Linked DNA regions of Homo sapiens. The protein of the gene in region 1 interacts with the protein of each later gene in a pairwise test. Each region holds a gene or a part of one and is shown in the gene's direction. Other genes may lie near its edges. The genes, in order: PEX1, GALNT6 and PEX13.

The links.
Region 2: the proteins of PEX1 (region 1) and GALNT6 interact in binary tests that used the Homo sapiens proteins (3 or more experiments, as listed by UniProt).
Region 3: the proteins of PEX1 (region 1) and PEX13 come close enough for resonance energy transfer, tested with the Homo sapiens proteins (one large-scale study listed by BioGRID).

Annotation. Positions count from the first base shown.
Region 1 is NC_000007.14:92,486,377-92,490,520, reverse strand, and holds the end of PEX1 (peroxisomal ATPase PEX1), read left to right. Parts: intron 1-609; coding exon 610-807; intron 808-1,097; coding exon 1,098-1,228; intron 1,229-2,979; coding exon 2,980-3,064; 3' UTR 3,065-3,496; downstream 3,497-4,144. UniProt on the Homo sapiens protein: Component of the PEX1-PEX6 AAA ATPase complex, a protein dislocase complex that mediates the ATP-dependent extraction of the PEX5 receptor from peroxisomal membranes, an essential step for PEX5 recycling.
Region 2 is NC_000012.12:51,388,606-51,393,025, reverse strand, and holds the start of GALNT6 (polypeptide N-acetylgalactosaminyltransferase 6), read left to right. Parts: upstream 1-1,619; 5' UTR 1,620-1,739; intron 1,740-1,830; exon of another isoform or gene 1,831-1,944; intron 1,945-2,088; 5' UTR 2,089-2,176; intron 2,177-4,420. UniProt on the Homo sapiens protein: Catalyzes the initial reaction in O-linked oligosaccharide biosynthesis, the transfer of an N-acetyl-D-galactosamine residue to a serine or threonine residue on the protein receptor. May participate in synthesis of oncofetal fibronectin.
Region 3 is NC_000002.12:61,041,658-61,045,305, forward strand, and holds part of PEX13 (peroxisome biogenesis factor 13), read left to right. Parts: intron 1-3,648. UniProt on the Homo sapiens protein: Component of the PEX13-PEX14 docking complex, a translocon channel that specifically mediates the import of peroxisomal cargo proteins bound to PEX5 receptor.

The DNA of each region.
Region 1 (4,144 bases):
TGGGACTACAGGCACATGCCACCATGCCCAGCTAATTTTTGTATGTTTTGTAGAGACGAGGTTTCACCATATTGCCCAGGCTGGTCTCAAACTCCTGGGCTCAAGCTATCTGCGTGCCTTGACCTCCCAAAGTGCTAGGATTACAGGTGTGAGCCACTATGCCTAGCCTAACTCAGACTTTAAAAATATAAAAGCAATTCATTTTTATTCCCAAGAACAGTAAGGTGGTGGTTTAATTTTAGTCTTTAATTCTGTTTTTAATTTATTCTATTTAGAAATGTCCCAGAAACTTAGTATAACTTTACTTTCTGAAAATGAAGAAACCTGTCCTTGGGCATTAGTGTGTTGGATTTAAGCAACAAAGTTAAAAAAACCTACCCTGTGTTATGGCAATTTTCACTTGATGGTGGTTCTATAACACAGGTATCAGTGAACCTTTATAAAAGATGAACAACTTTTCAGCTTGCTTAATTTCAGTTAATTAACATGTATACTTATCTATGTTAATGTTTTATTGCTTAAAATGTTTAATTTTTATATTTGGTAAACACATAGTTTTTTCTCTCCCCCTCTTCCTTCCATCTTTCATTACTACAATTTACCATGCAGAGCTCACAATGTCTCTCTGCACCAAGCTCCATGACTCAGGATTTGCCTGGAGTTCCTGGGAAAGACCAGTTGTTTTCACAGCCTCCAGTGTTAAGGACAGCTTCACAAGAGGGTTGCCAAGAACTTACACAAGAACAAAGAGATCAACTGAGGGCAGATATCAGTATTATCAAAGGCAGATACCGGAGCCAAAGTGGAGTATGGCTTTTTCCCCCTCATTATAATTGTTAAAACTTCTTAAAAATTGTTTCACCCTTTTGATATATATTTCTTTGACTTATAAACGAGCTATATTTATAAACAAGGGACCAGAACACATTAACTCAGTCATGGTTATGTGCTTCCTTGCTTTCAATGTTTCATTATCTTATAAGGAAGAGAACGTATGGTCTCTTGAAAAAACTGACAATAAGAAGTAACAACTGGACTACCACATTTTTTTTTACATCCTTAATTTAACTCTTCGTCAATTTCTTTTTTTACTTAAGGAGGACGAATCCATGAACCAACCAGGACCAATCAAAACCAGACTGGCTATTAGTCAGTCACATTTAATGACTGCACTTGGTCACACAAGACCATCCATTAGTGAAGATGACTGGAAGAATTTTGCTGAGCTGTAAGTAACAGATTCTGTTTTGGAAGTACAGCTACTATTACAAGTGACATAGTATTACACTTAAACCTTTAAAGTTCGTGTTTAAAATAAAAATATTTTGAATATTTAAAAGCTAATTCAAAAAATATGTGTCGTAGCTATGCATTAAAAAACCCCAAAATGTCAGAAGTACAGAAGTCAAAATTGAGTTTTCATTAACCAGTTCATTTGATTATATTTGAATTATTCATAATGGACTCATTTAATTTTAGTAACTTTGGGCTGGGTGCTGTGGCTCATGCCTGTAATCCCAGCTCTTTGGGAGGCCAAGGCAGGTGGATCACCTGAGGTCAGGAGTTCGAGGCAAGCCTAACCAACACGGGGAAACCCCATCTCTACTAAAAATACAAAAATTAGCCAGGTGTGGTGGCATGTGCCTGTAGTCCCAGCTACTTGGGAGGCTGAGACAGGAGAATTGCTTGAACCCAGGAGGTGGAGGTTGCAGTGAGCCGAGATTGCACCACTGCACTCCATCCAGCCTGGGCCACAGAGCGAGACTGTGTCTCAAAAAAAAAAAAAAAAAATTTAGTAACTTCGAAGAAATAAGAAGGAAAATTAAAAGTTGAAAGTGATTCTAATGTATAGTTTATAAAATTTTGTTATAAAAATACCTGTTTTGCCTTCAAAATAATTTATATTAATATTTTATTGACCTCAAGAACATTTAAATACATTCAGATTTATTCATTTGTGGACCACATTTGTTATACATTGGATTTAAAGGATCCTTGCAATTGAGTTTATGGCCACCTATGCATCTGAGACCCATGGACTGGGAACCATTCTAGGTCAATGATTCAGTGTGATTCAATTTAAGAGATGTTTATTCCTGGTCTTTAGAAGCTGCTACCTTTTGTTATCTAATTTTGCAGTACTTTGAAGTATGTATGTATGTGTACATACGTTAGTGCTATGTATTTATTAAAGAAGAATCAGAAAACAGAGGTAAGGAAAAATAAGGAAACAAATTTCTGTTAAGCCCACCACCTCCCAAAGCATATTTGTTTATATGCTTATATATGTTTTCCTATTATGGTAAGAACAGTCTGTACATATTGCTATATAGCAGTCCCCCTTTATCCACATACATCCTGAAAATTGTTTTACATTTTAAATGTTAACTACTTTATTGTTTTTAAATGTCATTTTATAGTGTAGCTATGCCACAATATCCAATTTTTAGACATTTAAATTGCTCCCAGGCAATGTGGTAATGAACATTCTTGCAGCTGAATATATGCACATATCTAATTGTTTCACTAGGATAGAGGTGGAATTGTATAACAGGGAGCTCACATTTTTTAAGGCTTTTGAAATGTATTGCCAAATTGCCTGCCAGATATACTGCACCATCACTAACATTGTGTGTTGCAGTATTTTTCTAAACTTGGCCCTTTTGATTTTAGAAAAATGATATCAATAATTTACATTTCTTTGATTAAAGTGTAGAAGTTATAATTTTTCATATTATTCATTGTCATTTGTATTTTATCTTTTCTAACTTGTCTCTTCATCCCCTTTGCTCCGTTTTCTATTGGAGTGCAACTTTATTTGTAAGAATTCTTTTTAATTTCTGTGACTGGAATTTTTTTTTCTAGTTTGTTATTTCCCGTTCATTTCTTAAAATATAATTGTGTTTGCCAACAATCCATTATCTTTTGTTTTGTAATGGTAGTATTTATACATATTAAATTATCTCTTTCTTTTTTCAGATATGAAAGCTTTCAAAATCCAAAGAGGAGAAAAAATCAAAGTGGAACAATGTTTCGACCTGGACAGAAAGTAACTTTAGCATAAAATATACTTCTTTTTGATTTGGTTCTGTTAAGTTTTTTGATGGCTTTTCCATATGTTGTAACAGGAAAAAAATGGTGTCTATGAATTTCTTCTTAATTTAACAAATTTGGTTAATTTATAAAATCACAGATTGGTAAATGCTATAATTATGTAATGATCAGGATTGAGATTAATACTGTAGTATAAATTGGGACATTATAACAGATTCCATATTTTATTTCCTAAAATCTAAATTCAGTCTTTAATGAAATAATATTAGCCAAATGGTGGAACTAATTTATTTCTTTTGAGGAAAAGATAATAAAGAATGTAATTAAATTTAAATTTCTTGGAATTCCCAGTTGTATATTCATCACCTTTGTAGCATTTGACAAATTTTATGCTTAGCAGCTTCTTCACTGTTTTGAAATAAAATATCCTATTACCTACTGATACAATTATCTGTTCTTTGTATATCAAAAAATGTGAAATTTACACATAATTCAAATACATTTAATTATCCGCTCAACCAGAAATGAAATCACATCCCTCTACTATACTACATCCAGCTCCAAGCCCAAGATATTTAAATGACATCCATTCCTCTCCTAGTTCCAGTTATGATTTTATCTTGATATTCTCTCATATATGAACTAAATTATAAAGTTAGCCACCATCAATACAATCTGCGTATCTAATATCTTAACTATATAGTAATGGGGTAAGGGAACAGCAAAAAGGAGAACATTAATTAAAATATACAAGTAAGCCTGGGCAACATAGTGAGACCCCATCTCTTAAAAAAAAAATTAGCCATGCATGATGGTATGCCTCTAGTCCCAGCTACTTGGGAGGCTGAGGTAGGAGGATCACTTGCTCCCAGGAGGTTCAAGGTTCTAAACCAGCAAAGCTCAGAATCCCAGGGGATAGAAACAAAGACTTAGTGGATCACTAGTATTAAACTGAGACACGTCACCCTGCATTGCACTTTGTTTCTCAGTTCTTTGATGAAATCACTGAGCTGACATACCTGCCCTCTTTTCACCATAAAGTGAGTTTCATGATCAGAAGCAATGTCTATGGGATAGCCTAACAAACAAT
Region 2 (4,420 bases), on another chromosome or scaffold:
GGGAGGCGGGGCAGCAGAAAGAGGAAGAAAACAGAAAGAAAGAAAGACAAATTTATTTAAATATCAAAACAAAAGAGAAACTGAACTAGTGGTAGAAGTTTCTACCATAGAAAGTTTTCAAATTATTGGCTATTTGGAGTCATGCGCGCTCCTTCTCTGTTGCTAAGGCCCCAAAAGATTGCAGCACACGAGGCAGCGCCGGAGAGGACCACTGAGCAGCACGGGCCCTGGCGGGGTAATTCCGAACACCGGCTTAGGAGGCGGGTTTACCAGGATTCTCATTCCAGCCCTGCCACTAATTGTTCAGGGTTCTCAAGGTCGAGCATGCACAAAATCACCCGGAGGGCTTTTAAAACACAAGTCGCCGGGCCCAACCCGAGTTTCGGAATATTTAGGTCTGCGGTGGGGCCCATTTCTTTTCTTTTCTTTTCTTTTTTTCTTTTTTTTTTTTTTTGATACGGAATCTCGCTCTGTCGCCAGGCTGGAGTGCAGTGGCGTGATCTCGGCTCACTGCAACCTCCCCCTCCCGAGTTCAAGCGATTCTCCGGCCTCAGCCTCCCGAGTAGCTGGGATTACAGACGCCCGCCACTACGCCCAGCTAATTTCTTGTATTTTTAGTAGAGACGGGGTTTCACCATGTTGGCCAGGCTGGTCTCGAATTCCTAACCTTGTGATCCGCCCGCCTCGGCCTCCCAAAGTACTGGGATTACAGGCATGAACCACCGCGCCCGGCCAAAATTTCTAATAAGTTCTCAGGTGATTCTGACTGGCGCTGCTGGTGGGGGATCCCACTTTGAGAAACACCCTCTGCTGTGTGAGCAGCTGCCTCCCCGGTACATTCGGAATAATCATAGTAGGTTTAAAGTTTGCTGGGGCTGGGATTCACCTGATACCTGGCACTTGGAGCCCTTGACACAGTTCATGGCACACGGAATACGAGCTCTTGTTGGATGGAGCACAAATGAGAAGCAAACCTGGGGCAGGACCCCGGGGCCCATGGCCGCCCCGCCGCGTTTCCCCCTCCGGGGCAGGCCTCCGGGCTCCGAGCGCTCCAGGCTGGCGCGCAGCACATTCCGGTTCCATGCACCCGCCGCCCGCGGCTCTGCTAATGCCTGTCCTCTTTGGGGTGACTAGGACCCTCCAATCTTTTTCCGCGCTGAAAGCCTGGCCGCAAAGACCGCACCCCCGGGGCGGGCTGAGACGCAGAGAAGCCGGGGCGCCCCTCTGCCGGTCCGCCGGGAGTTCCCGGGCCCGCAGCAGGCTGAGGACACGGCGGGACCCGCTGCACCTGGCCAGGGAGGGGCGGGGCGGGCGCGTTAGTGCAGCTGGGGGAGGTCCCGCCCCGGTCCCACCCTCCCGGCCGTCCGGTGGGGAAACCCGGGAGCCACCCCGCGGCGCGGCTGCGGCTTTGCCTCGGCGCGACAGGTAAGCGGCAGAAGGAGCCCGCGACCCTCTCCCCGGGAGGGCCCCCCTGAGCTCCCCGACTGCTCGGACTTCCCTTCGGCGGATCTCGCTTCTGCCGAGTCCTCGCTCTCACCTCCTCCTCCGCCAGCCTTCGCCTCTTCCTCTTCCTCCTCACTACCCCCGACAGTAAAATGAAGGGGCTGGGCCAGGCTGGTCCCTCCTGCCTTCGCTCTCTGCTGGTCGCGGTGGCCTGTAGCTCCTCCCTCGGTAGGACCCCCCTCCACCTTGGCGCTTACGAGATGAATGAGGAGCCCAGACCTCTGGAACTTGGAGGGGTGAGAGGGGGACAAGCCAGAGCCAGGGCTCCACACCCTCTTCCCCTCACCCACCCATGCCCTGCATTCCTTCTGTGCCCCGTCTCCCCAGATCGGGCCACCCCATGTGCTCTGGTACGGCAACTCTTGCAGAGAGGTTTCCTCCTGCCCTGCCACGTTGCGCCTGAGCAGAAGGGGACAGCAAGGAGAAGCCTCGCTGGTGGAGGTCGGTCTGAGCCCTGCTTGGTTGAATTCCCTCCAGAGCCTGGGGGCTTTTGGGGGTGGGAAGGGATCTGCCTCCTGCTGTGGGGAAATGGAATCTGCTGGGTGTTCATGACTGTGACTGTCACCGACTTCCCTATTTCCTCAGTTGTTCAGATTCCCAGGCTGACAAAAAGGAGAAACAGCTTTTACTTGCATCCAGGGCCAATCATCGCAGACCCAGACGTCTGCAGAGGGTAGGATGGGGCTCTTCTGTGTATGGGGGTGGAGGGTGGTCAGTTTGCCCACAAAGCTTACAGCAGACCCCTTCTAGCAGCCGACAACCCATTGCAGCACTCTCAGAAAGGATGTTAACTCTGTGCTCTGAGCTCGCCCCCAGGCCCACACACACAATTTACAGGCACTGGGTGAGGTTCATAGTTCTGGACACACCAAAGAGCCTCGAGGACTTTTGCGCCTTCTACCAGAGATGTGTGTGCACCACACAGGCCCTATTCTCCGCTCCAGACAGATGAGCTGTCTCCCTTCCCATCAAAGGAAAGGTTAAGAAGGATGAGACAGGGAAATTCATGTGATGATGAAAACCAGGTCAGGTGAGGGGTTTGAAATATGCTTTGGTTCCGGCCACATGTGGTGGCTCATGCCTGTAATCCCAGCACTTTGGGAGGCTGAGGCTGGTGCATCACCTGAGATCAGGAGTTCGAGACCAGCCTGGCCAACATGGCAAAACCCCATCTCCACAAAAAATACAAAAAGTTAGCCGGGCATGGTGGCAGGCGCCTGTAATTCCAGCTACTTGGGAGGCTGAGGCAGGAGAATTGTTTGAACCTGGGAAGCAGAGGTTGCAGTGAGCTGAGATCGCACCATTGCATTCCAGCCTGGGCAATAAGAGCAAAACTCTGTCTCAAAAAAAAAAAAAAAAAAAAAAAGAAAGAAAGAAAGAAAGAAATATGCTTTGATTCCAATTGCCTAGCAGGAGCCAGTAGCATTGCAGGCATTTCCCTAGCTCCAGTTCCTTAATGGTGCCATGCACTTTAGGAACCCAGAGGTAATCAGAGAAAGTTGCTTCCAGGGGCACCAGGGCAGAGAACAGGACAAGACCCTCAAAAGAAAGAGGGAAGTGTGCAGGAGACTGGGCTGCTCAAGATGACCTCACCTCAGTAATGCTGCCCACAGTCCTACAGTGGGTGGAACAGCTGACTCCTACCTGTAGCAGCATGGAAGAACTCAGGGCAGAGAAGGGGAGGCCCTGATGTGTGTCAGGTGCCCTGTGAGGTCAGAAACATATTTGCCCAAGTTCAGCTGGAAGAAGTGGGGACAGGAAATATGAGCATGAACTTAGTCCATGCAACCATTGCCTCGAACAGACCTCAGGACCAGGAGGGGCAGCTAACCCTAGGGCTGAGGGCCTCTCAGTGCAGGGAGGCAGTGAGTATCATGAAGGCAGGCAGCTGACTCAGCCCTGTCACTAACTTCGATATATAATCTTAGCCAAAACACATAAACACTCCCTGGGTGGGGAGCAAATGAGAAGGTGTATATGAAGTGTTTTGGCAAAGCTCCAAGCACCAGTCAAATGCAAGACAATGTGATGTCATAGTTAAGAGAGTGGGCTTTGGAGATACATAGGCCTGAATGCAAATTCTGCCTCTGCCACATTTCTAGCTGTGTGACCTTGGTCAAGTTACTTGACCTCCCTGTGCTTCAGTTTCCTTCTGTGTAAAACAGAGAAGATAACTGTAACTTGATTTGATATGGTAAGCAGTAATATTTAAAATGGTGATGGTATTCTTCTTAACATTTTCTGGCTCCCACGGATGTGTTCCGACATCTCAGCCCTGGAAGGGATGCTGAAGACCAGGTTGGGTGTGTCCATGCCGTAGCTTGGGTGAACTCAGCTCTTTACACAGTCCTCTGCCCCTTTCTGGGAAAGCCCAAATGTTCATTCTCATTTGATAGGAACGAGAGTGAGGATTTGAATAAGCAGGAGGTTAAGTGCAGGGCAGTGCCTGTCTCTGTGTCGAGCTCAATGTTGTAATTGTGCTGTGTAAAAGGCCTGTGTGGTGAACAAGGGTGAGCTCACTCCAGGGAGGAGAAGGACTGTTAGAAGACTTTTGTGGCACCTGACAGCCCTGTGGGGTCAGCTTATTCTCTCGTACCCTGAACAACTTGGTCCTAAGGCCTAGGTAGAGATTTGAAGGAAGAAAGCAACCCAGTCCTCAACTCTGCACGTAATAGAGAATGAAGAACAGACTAGCAAAATAGCATTGCCATACATCTCAAGGCAGAGAGATGCGACAGGGATTGGAAGGCCAGGTAGATTGGTCAGGAAGAACATTCTGGAGACAGAAGTTTGGGGACCAAGACTCAAGGATTGGGAAGGAGAAGGAAATAGGATCTAGGTGGTCTACCGTCTAGGCCTGTTGGTTCTCCCTTCTCCATGATAGTTAGTGGGGAAATCCCACGTAAGGAAAGCACGG
Region 3 (3,648 bases), on another chromosome or scaffold:
ATGGAAGGAGGGAGGAAAAGAATGGCCAAATTGAGTGATCAAGTTGTTGTGGGAGATTGTCAGTTTTTTGTTTTGCTTTGTCTTTTCAGAAGTGAGGAGATCTGAGAATGTTTTTAGGCTAAAAGAAAGGAGTCAGTAGAGAAGGAGCAGTTATAAATAAGGGAAAGATAGGAGTTAAATGATGAAGAAGCTACTATAGGAAGTAAGAGAGGGTGTGATCTTACGGAACCTGGCAGGTAAAAAGGAAGGACGGTTTTTTATCTGAGTCAAAAGGAGAGGAAATCGGTAATGATACAAAGAGATTTTTGAGGAGAAGCAAAATTGAGGTCCTATTACTTTAGCTCTTAGAGCAGGGGTTGGCAAACCGTGGCTTGTGGGCCAAATCTGGCCTGCTCCTATTTTTGTACAGCTCACAAGCTAAAAATGGTTTTTATACTTTTCAGTTGCTGGGAAATTAAAAGAATGTTTTAAAAATTGAAATAATCTGTGATGTGAAAATTATATAGAATTCAAATTTCATTAATAAAGTTGTATTGGAGCACAGCCACACTTATTTCCATACATATTGTTATGGCTGCTTTTCCACTGTAACAGTGGAATTGAATAGTTTGCACAGAGACTATATGTGAAATTCCGATGGCTTCACTTTTGCTCTGCCCACTACAAATTTCAGTAACTTAGTTATAACTTGATAGCATGATGAGTAATATATACATTGTTATACTACAGTGGGTTTTTTTTGAAATTATGAATTCATATATGACACACAAGAAAAAAGTGTACTTTGAGTGTCATATTTTCAAGGCACAGTATAGTATGAATTATTTCGTTATTGAATTAGATAGTAAAAAAAACTGTATTTATTATACAATGACACTATAGCTATGTTAAATGGCTATACTACATATCAGCATTACCAGATTGAGCACTCATCACAGAAAATCAACAGTCAAAAAAATTAGAAAATTTAAAATGGAATTCTCATCACAGCAGAATTTCCGCATCAAAATAAAAATAAAATAAAATGAGGCTGCAACCAAAATAAGTTCCTGAGAGGTTCATATGTTACCCAAGCAAGGAAACCTGTTTACTCATGGTCATTGCAACAGCCAAAAAAAATATGTCCAGAGAAAGTAAACTTGTTTAAGATTATTAGCTTCTCAGTGAGAACAGTTCCTTGAAGAGTTGATGGCATTTTGAACAACATGGCCAACTTAAAATAAGACAAATGATTTGAATGTTTTTCCTTGGCTCATCATGACCCAATGGATATTAATACTTGCTAAATCTGTTGGCTAAATGTTGTCATCATGGGAGTGAGTTCATTATCTCGAGAGTGAGTTTGTTATACAAGCTAGTTTGGCCCTCTTACTCTCTCGCATGCACTCTTTTGCCATGTGATGCCTCCTGCCATGTTATGACACAACAAGAAGGCCCTTACTAAATGCCCCTTGATCTCGGATTTCCTAGCCCCCAGAACTGTGAGCAAATAAACTTCCATTGTTTACAAATTACCCAGTCTGTAGTATTCTGTTAAAGTAGCATAAAACAAAGACAGGCTGGGTTCGGTGGCTCATGCCTGTAATCCTGGCACTTTGGTAGGCCGAGGCGGGCGGATCATGAGGTCAGGAGATGGAGACCATCCTGGCTAACGTGGTGAAACCCTGTCTCTACTAAAAAAAAAAAAAAAAAAAACAAATTTTCAAAAAAAAGACAGTACTGCTTAGTTGTTTATTTGAGAAATCAATGGTGAATTGGAAATGACTGAAGAATTAGCCTCTATGAATAGTCATGGTTCAACTACAGACAAGAACATTTTCAAAGAAGGTGAAAACACTGATTCCGTACAACCTGAATCTGCTAAGATGTGTTGCACCTGATAATGGTGAAAATTCTAGGTGGAGCAGGAAAAGGCCTAGTTGGACAAAAGTTACAAAGGTTTTGAAAATACAGTTTTTTTGTTTATGGTTATTCATTGTATTATCAGCAGCCACATTGCAGAAAATATTTGAATTTATCATGTGTTATTGAACTAGTAGTGTCAAGGTAAAGTTTATTCACTCTTGTGACATAATCATTGTCAGTTTTGTGAATTTTTGTCAGATACAGAAGCTGAAGATCCCGACTTGCCCTACCGCATGGCAATTCAATGGCAGAACAAGGTTTAAGTTTTATTTTATTTTTTTTGAGATTGAGGCCAAGAATGAAATTTTTCTGAACAGAACTCCTTTTCAGCTATTGTTATTAAACCCATTCAGCTTTGGAAATCACCTTTTACTGCAGACTTAGTTAAATTCTGAGTTCTTTTTGGAGACAGGGTCTTGCTTTGTCAGCCAGGCTGGAGTGCAGTAGCGTGATCATAGCTCACTGCAACCTCACACTCTTGGGCTCACATGATTCTCCCACCTCAGCTTCCCAAGTAGCTAGTACTAGAAGTACACACCACCACACCTGGCCAATTTATTTATTTATTGTGGAGACGAGATTCCACTGTGTTGCTCAGGCTGGTCTTGAACTCCTGGCCTCAAGCAATCCTGCCTTAGCGTCCCAAAGTGCTGAGTGAGATTACAGGCATGAACCACCATGTCCAGCCCAGACTTAGTTATATTCTTTGTTGTTGTTTTCTTTTTGAGACAGGGCCTCACTCAGTTGCCCAGGCTGGAGTGCGTAGTGCAGTCTCGGCTCACTGCAACCTCTGCCTCCCAGGTTCAAGCGATTCAAGCTGAGACTATAGGCGCGTGCCACCACATCTGCCTAATTTTGTTTATTTTTTTGTAGAAACAAGGTTTCCCTATGTTGCCCAGGTTGGTCTTGAACTGCTGGACTCATGCAATTTCCCCTGTCTCAGCCTCTCAAAGTACTGGGATTATAGGCATGCGCCACCATGCCCGGCTAATTTTGTATTTTTAGTAGTAATGGAGTTTCTCCATGTTGGTCAGGCTGGTCTCAAACTCCCGACCTCAGGAGATCCACCCGCCTCGGCCTCCCAAAGTGCTGAGATTACAGGTGTGAACCACCACGCCTGACCTATATTCTTAAGTAATTCAAACGGAAACCACAAAGCAGAACAGTGCTTATATGCAAAACTTATGCTGGAGTAAAGTTTTGACAACACCTAATACAGTTTGACTCACAAGTAATGTCACACTGCTTTATAGACCTCTCAGACTGTCAGAAGTTAACACAAGCAGTATCTCCATTCCCACGCAAGTTGGCAGCAGATACATTTTCCAAGCTTAAGCTATTAATACAATGCCAGAGCATTTTTTGGACCTCCATGCAAGCACAAAGGAAATTTCCATATTTCAAAATCCATTTAACTATGCAATTGAGGAACTTCCACTTAATCTTCATTTGGAAGTGATTAATCTGCAATGTAATAACATGGTAAAAGGCAAATATCAAGAGAAGAATTTAACAGAATTATATTCTGGCCTATTACTCTCCCAACTAATAAATATGCTCAATTAAAACCACATACTCATAGACTCATATTAGGATTTGACATTACCTATCTGTGTGAAAAGGCATTTTCAAAAATGCAGTACCTCAAATTTTATTACAAATTAGAATTAGCAAGTGAATATTTATAATTGATTTCCAATTAAGTGAAATATCCTTCCCCCAAAATATTTCATTCTTCTAAGT